Linked DNA regions of Homo sapiens: region 1 is linked to region 2. Evidence: fine-mapped expression QTL. A gene starts in region 2. The other region holds a variant in brackets. All regions are shown on one strand. Distances are from middle to middle.

What was found. PIP is the estimated chance that this variant, and not a neighbour inherited with it, causes the effect. A credible set is the group of variants that fine-mapping cannot tell apart.
Region 1: its variant is the best candidate, but not a certain one, in a credible set for the expression of FBXL13 in whole blood (TOPMed, PIP 0.76).

Annotation. Positions count from the first base shown.
Region 1 is chr7:103,168,105-103,171,015 of GRCh38, reverse strand. No RefSeq gene overlaps it. Among named protein-coding and RNA genes, the nearest start is that of NAPEPLD, 20 kb to the right of the region's middle. The variant G/A (reference allele first, on the strand shown) is at 1,493.
Region 2 is chr7:103,073,349-103,076,259 of GRCh38, reverse strand. FBXL13 (F-box and leucine rich repeat protein 13) reads left to right here and starts at 1,464. Exons shown (of 21, transcript NM_001394494.2): 1 at 1,464-1,564. The coding sequence starts at 1,490. ARMC10 (armadillo repeat containing 10) reads right to left here and starts at 1,120. Exons shown (of 7, transcript NM_031905.5): 1 at 849-1,120; 2 at 379-483. The coding sequence starts at 987. RefSeq lists an enhancer at 374-423 and a silencer at 694-1,533.

The DNA of each region.
Region 1 (2,911 bases), 95 kb before region 2:
TCCTCTTCTCCCTTTCCCTCTCCCTCTCCTTTTCCTGCCCTTTACTGTACAAGAATGCCTTGAATAAAGAAAACCTATAAAACAGAAATATAAATTTGGAAATGATTATTTAATTGGCCTTTGATTTCATGACAGGCAAAAATAAGTTGGCCCTCATATTTTTTTTTTTTTTGCAAAAAATGATACTTTAAATACTAAAGGATTTAAAGGATACTTGGTAAATATTTGTTGGCTTAATTCATGAAACATGTGGCTGTTATGTGAAAATACATTATCTGTATCCCAGGAATAAAAAGAAAATATCCTTTTTCTGGCCTAGAGCATAATACTTCAGCCCTGAGGGCCCCACTCACTCACCTGGTATTCTATGTATATGGTGCTCCCTGCGGCAGCCCTGGGCTCATTACAAGTAACACTGATTCTTAGGTGTTTTATGCCTTTTTACCAATCTCTTTAGAGGAAGCAGATGAACATTTAGAATTTTAACAGGGAATGTTTACCTGAGGACAGAAGCTAGATGAAAAGATCAGGTGGCACCCAGAACACATATTTTTCCTGACAATCCAGCCAAATGTGAATCCAGGGACTCAGTGTAATTCATCAGAACAAAGCAACACTGCGGGCAGGTTGTGTGGTACCCACTTGCCTTTGTAATACCGCCATGCTCAATTCCAAACACAGCCTGTCAACTCATCAGAGCAGGACTGGTGAGAAAGCCAAGGCTGGCAGCAGGTTTGGTGCCACCTCTTGGTGCCAGAGCCACCTGCACACAGCATGGAGCAAGGGAATAGCCAGGGTGCCCTGGAGCCAGTTCCTTCCAGAAGCCAGCAGCCCTAGGGCTCCTCTATCCCACTCCCAGCAAGAAGAAGCTGCCATGAATATGAAGGTGGGAAGAGGAAGCTCAGACCAGGGGAAGGCTTGGGCTGTGTGTTAATTCTTCTCTGGTCCCCAGGGCCCAACACAGTTGTCTGGTTAATACTGCATTAAATGCAGTGAATTGATTCTAGCCCCAGTTCCACTAAGAAATTCCTGAGTGCTCTCAGAAAGTTACTTCTCTTGGAGCCTGCAGCACAACAAACCACTCAGAGCTTGGTGCTATAAAACAACAGCAAGCATTTGTCATTACTATCTTTCACTTCTTTAGGGGTTGATGGGGCTCAGCTAGGTAGTTTTTGGTCCTCATGCAGTGACAATCAGACAATGGCTGGGGCTAGAGTTCTCTTGAAGGCCTTTCCATTCATACTCTCTGGTGCCTGACTTGGGAAGACCTAAATAGCTGGCGGCTGGAACAGCCGGGGCTCCTCAGGCACCTCTGTCTATTACAGTGTGCTCCCTCCAATGTGGACTCTCTGTCAGGGTAGCTGGACTTCTTACATGAAGTCACCTGTCCCCGGAGACAGGCTGGTGGAAGTCAATAACCCATTGTGATCCAGCTTCACAAGTCAAGCAGTGTCACTTCCACCATATTATATGCACGGAGACAGTCAAAAGC[G/A]CTGCCCATGTTCCAGGGCAGGAGATAGATCTCTCTTCTTGATGGGAAGAATGTTAAAGAATTTACAGACTTGCTTTGAAACAGAGCCTTAATTTCTCCATATCCTCTAAATGAGGATAATAATACCTCATGGGCCAGATTTTGTTGATGAGGGGGATGGAAGGATACTTGGGGCTAATGCAGATGAACTCATGTGGTGAAAATTAAGGTGCAGTCCAAACATAAGAGATGGACAATTAGAGCTGTCTGGAGTTACAAATCCTTAAACCGGAACATGTTATAATCTTTCAGAGGCCGAAAAAGTTTTCTTGTTGGCATTCTTCTCTTCAATAAATAAATCACCTGAGTTGCAAAAATACAATTTTCCCCATAAGATCAACAATAAAGCCATTTTGAATGAGAGAGAAATATAGCCTGTAAGTAATTTTTGCTTTTTCCTAATTTTCTCTTGATCAAAATAAGGTTGCCCACCATTGCTATGCATCTTGTTACACTCACTGCCAAGGCTCAGTGTCTTGCAAATGTTGCTGTGCATAAATGTTTATAGTGGAAAGGATTTAAGAACAAAAATGAGTTGTCATTGGCCTATTTAACATTAAGTACAATTGACATCTGTACTCTATTTGTATAAATAAGATAGGTTAAAATTTGTTCTGTACCCACTTCCATTATAATGCCAATAACAAGTTATTACACTCATTTATTAGTTGGAACTCTTGGTTCCAAAGAAAAAAAAAATCAAGGCTAAAACCACAAAAAAGGAAATGTAGGGGGCCTCAAGCACTGGGGTGTTGGAATGCGGCTGGAGGGTCTGGAACCAACAACTGGTGGGAAGCAAGGCTCTCCAGGATTCATTCAGTCATCTAATTATTCTTTCTCCCTCCTCCATCCTTGTTTCTCTCTCTCTGCTGCACTCTACTCTGCACACTGATTATTTCTATATTTCTACTTCTCAGCCAACATAACAAGCAGAAGTGGCTGCTCCATAATCTTCAGTTTTGAGTCTGTCATTCACCAGGCTTGCCCAGGCTAAATTAAAACTCTTAGTTAAAGGTTCAAATTCCTGGGAGAGACAATGTTGCCTGGTTGTGCAGGGGCCATTATCCATTCAGGGCTACATCACATAATACAATTGTGGTGCAGGCTCCTGGGCATAGAAGGGGAAAGAGTGCTGCTGGGGAGGGCCTAAGGGATTCTTGGTGAAATGGAGAGCCACTCCAGAGGGTGGTGGCTACAACGTATTTACACACACACTTTCCTGCTCTGCTAGACTTGTTTTGTTCTTCTCTATCCTCAATATCAAGCCCAATCCATAGTAGGTAGTCAATGCATGCTAAGCTTCATGAGTGGAAGTTTTTACAGTCACATTTCTTAAACAGCAAAAGCACCTAGAGTCTGGCGCACTTTGAGAATCTTGTG
Region 2 (2,911 bases):
ACCTAAGGACAAATTATTTTTTATCTTGAGAACACGTATGTAATATGAAATCGGTTCTATCTGTCCAGCTACATTTAAAGGAATTAGAATTCTTCCTGCTATCCCATTAGCAAATTGCCCGTGATGTGTGAGGCAATTTAGTTTGTGCTTATTCAACAATGAAGCTGTTTAGCTCTCTTCTACAATTGTGGACAGGAGTTTCTTGGATGGCAGATATGATATTTTAAATTATTTCCCTAACAGCTTCCATGATGTGAAACATGCCTTTGGAGGGTTTTAATGTACCGATCAACTTTTGGACAGAAACCGAATCATGCATTTGTCCGCTGGGAGGGTGTGTCTCGCGCAGACAACTGTTCCCATTTCCAAAACACACACCAGGCTGCGAGGTCTTGGACCACTGTGACTCCCAGGTACCTCCCGTCTGAGGCCGGGCCGAGCGCCCGCACAACTGACCCTCTGACGTCCCTTCTTCCAGGGCACCTGCAAGCAGAGATTGACCTATGGCTCTGGGCCCCTCAACAGCCCTTCCACAATCGGGAGAATCCCTTTAGTTACACAAAGGCCCGGAGCAAGCTTTAAAATGAGAGGCCATCAACAGGTTTTTAAGAAATCTAATCCTCCGCTGTGACGCGGAGCTCAGGCAGGAAAGCCAGGGCAAGTTTTCATACCAGTATAGTCAGCAAAGGGGCGGCGGGGGCGGCGCAGCACCCTGCACTCACACAAGTACTGCCTCTCCCTCTAGCTCGGCTCCTCATTTTACCCCGAGCACACGCAAGCCACCACCCCGGCCTGGGGAGCCCCCCTGCCCAGTCCCCGCCCACCTGCCGGAAACCCCGGGGTCCCACCTGCGGACTTCGAAGAGCGTATCCCGAGCTCGCGGTCGCCCCGCCGCCGACCCCGGGTCAGCCTGTAAATGCAGTAGCAGGCGCCCGCGCCGAGCAGCAGGCCCGCCGCCACCCAGCCCGCGCCCCGGGGGCCACCCATGCTGCCGCCGCGGCAGAGCCGCAGCGCCGGGCCAGGGCAGGAGGCTCGCGGGGGCCAGCGCGGAGGTCTCCAGCGCACGCGGGCCTAGCCGCCACAGCAAACGCCACCTGACCTGGATGTGGAGAAAGGAAATGGGGTCTGAGCTCCGCCTCCCGGAAACGGCCTAGCTCAAAGCCTATAACCGCCCACTCCAGCCCGGCGCGTCCCGGCGGCTTCTCCCAGGCGAGGCGGGGCGGTGCGGGGCGCTGCACACCGGGAGGGGGGGGTCGGACGGTGCGCCCCACGCGGAGACGCCGGGGCCCGCAACCCAGAGCCGAGCTTCCCGTCTCTTCCCCCGGGGCGTGAAGCAACCATTCCTCCCTCCCGCCCCTGGCAGCGGAGCGCGGGGCGGTGCCACGCCCAGCCCCGCCCCCTGGTTGCCGGGACAACGCCCGCACGCGCCCGGCCCCTAGTCCCAGCGCGGGGAGGGTACTATCGCAGCTTCTCCGTCAGGCCTTGGGCCATGGCCTCGCTACGCAATGCCAACCCGAGGCTGAAGAACTACTTCAAGGAGAACTACATTCCTCAGGTCTGCGAGGTACTGGACACGCGTGGCAGCGGACACAGACCGTCGGTGGGGAGTTAGAAGGGGGAGGAGTCAGGAAAGACTTCCCGGAGGAGGGACTAGGTTTCGGGATTGGGGAGGAGTGGAGGGAAGGCGGGGCAGAATGCGAGAAAGTGAAGTCAAATTCGGACTTGTAGGCGATCAGGGCTGAAGACGCTGATTAGAGAGAAAACAGAGGGTGATGGTGGCTGCACGTGGGGAATGGGTGACATCTCCCAGGGGGAATGAGCACAAGGCCCAGATCGGAAACCCCAAACTCAGATTTTAAGGTTTGGACAAGAAGTACCTGAGGAGTGGAGGAGTGAGAAAGAAGTGCCAGAGAGCCTGAGGAGGAAAATCAGCAGACTGGCATTATGAAGAATGTTGTCAGAAGTAGGGAGTAGGCACTAGTCACCTAAGATAAGGAGCTGGATTCTGCCCAAGGTGAGCCTGAGGTTTCCATGGAGCCGTGAGGGCAGAAAATAGATGGAGGTTAGCGGAGGGAAGAGTGGAAGCTGAGACCTTTGGTCAGTGTAGTCAGCCCTTTGTGAAGGTAAGGACCCTCTCAACCAGGATTGCCTTTAGACAACAGGAAGGACTGCCCTCCTACTGCCGTTATAAGAGTAGGGAAGGAAGACAGGAAGGGGATAGACATTAGGTTTTGTAGGTTTGGGGGTAGGAAGCTGAGAACATTTGCCTTTGTTGACCTCTTTTTTTCTCTACAAATAGTTGGTGAGATATTTACCAAGAATGTGCGTGTTTGAGTGGGGATGGGGATGTTGGTGCAGTAGGAGGTTCGAGCAAAGATACGTTATGTGGAGAATGAGGGAGAGAGATGTCTAGGGAAAGAAAGAGGAGGTCCTACCTGAGGGTAGTAACGCTCCTAGGCGGTTGGGAGGGCAATTTGGTAGAGACCCCCCACCCGTCTCTTTTTTGGATGGTAATTGAGAAATATTTATTAAGATGTTAAATACATGTACCCTTTAACCAAGCATTTCTACTTCTAGGGATCTACTTTAGAGAAATACTTGCACATGTGTTCAGGAGGATGTACAAGGATATTCATTATAACTTTGTTTCATAGTAAAAATAGTAAATGACCTAGAGTGACTAAGCGAATGAGGCATTATGTAGAATAAAGTATATCTGTACCTACTAAGAAGAAATGTCCTCCAAGACATATTATTATTATCATCATTATTATTGAGACACGGGGTGTTGGTCTGCCACCCAGGCTAGGGTGTAGTGGCTCCATCCTAGCTCACTGCAGCCTCAAACTCCTGGGCTCAATTGATCCTCCCACCTCATCCTCCCAAGTAGCTAGGACTACAGGCATACACC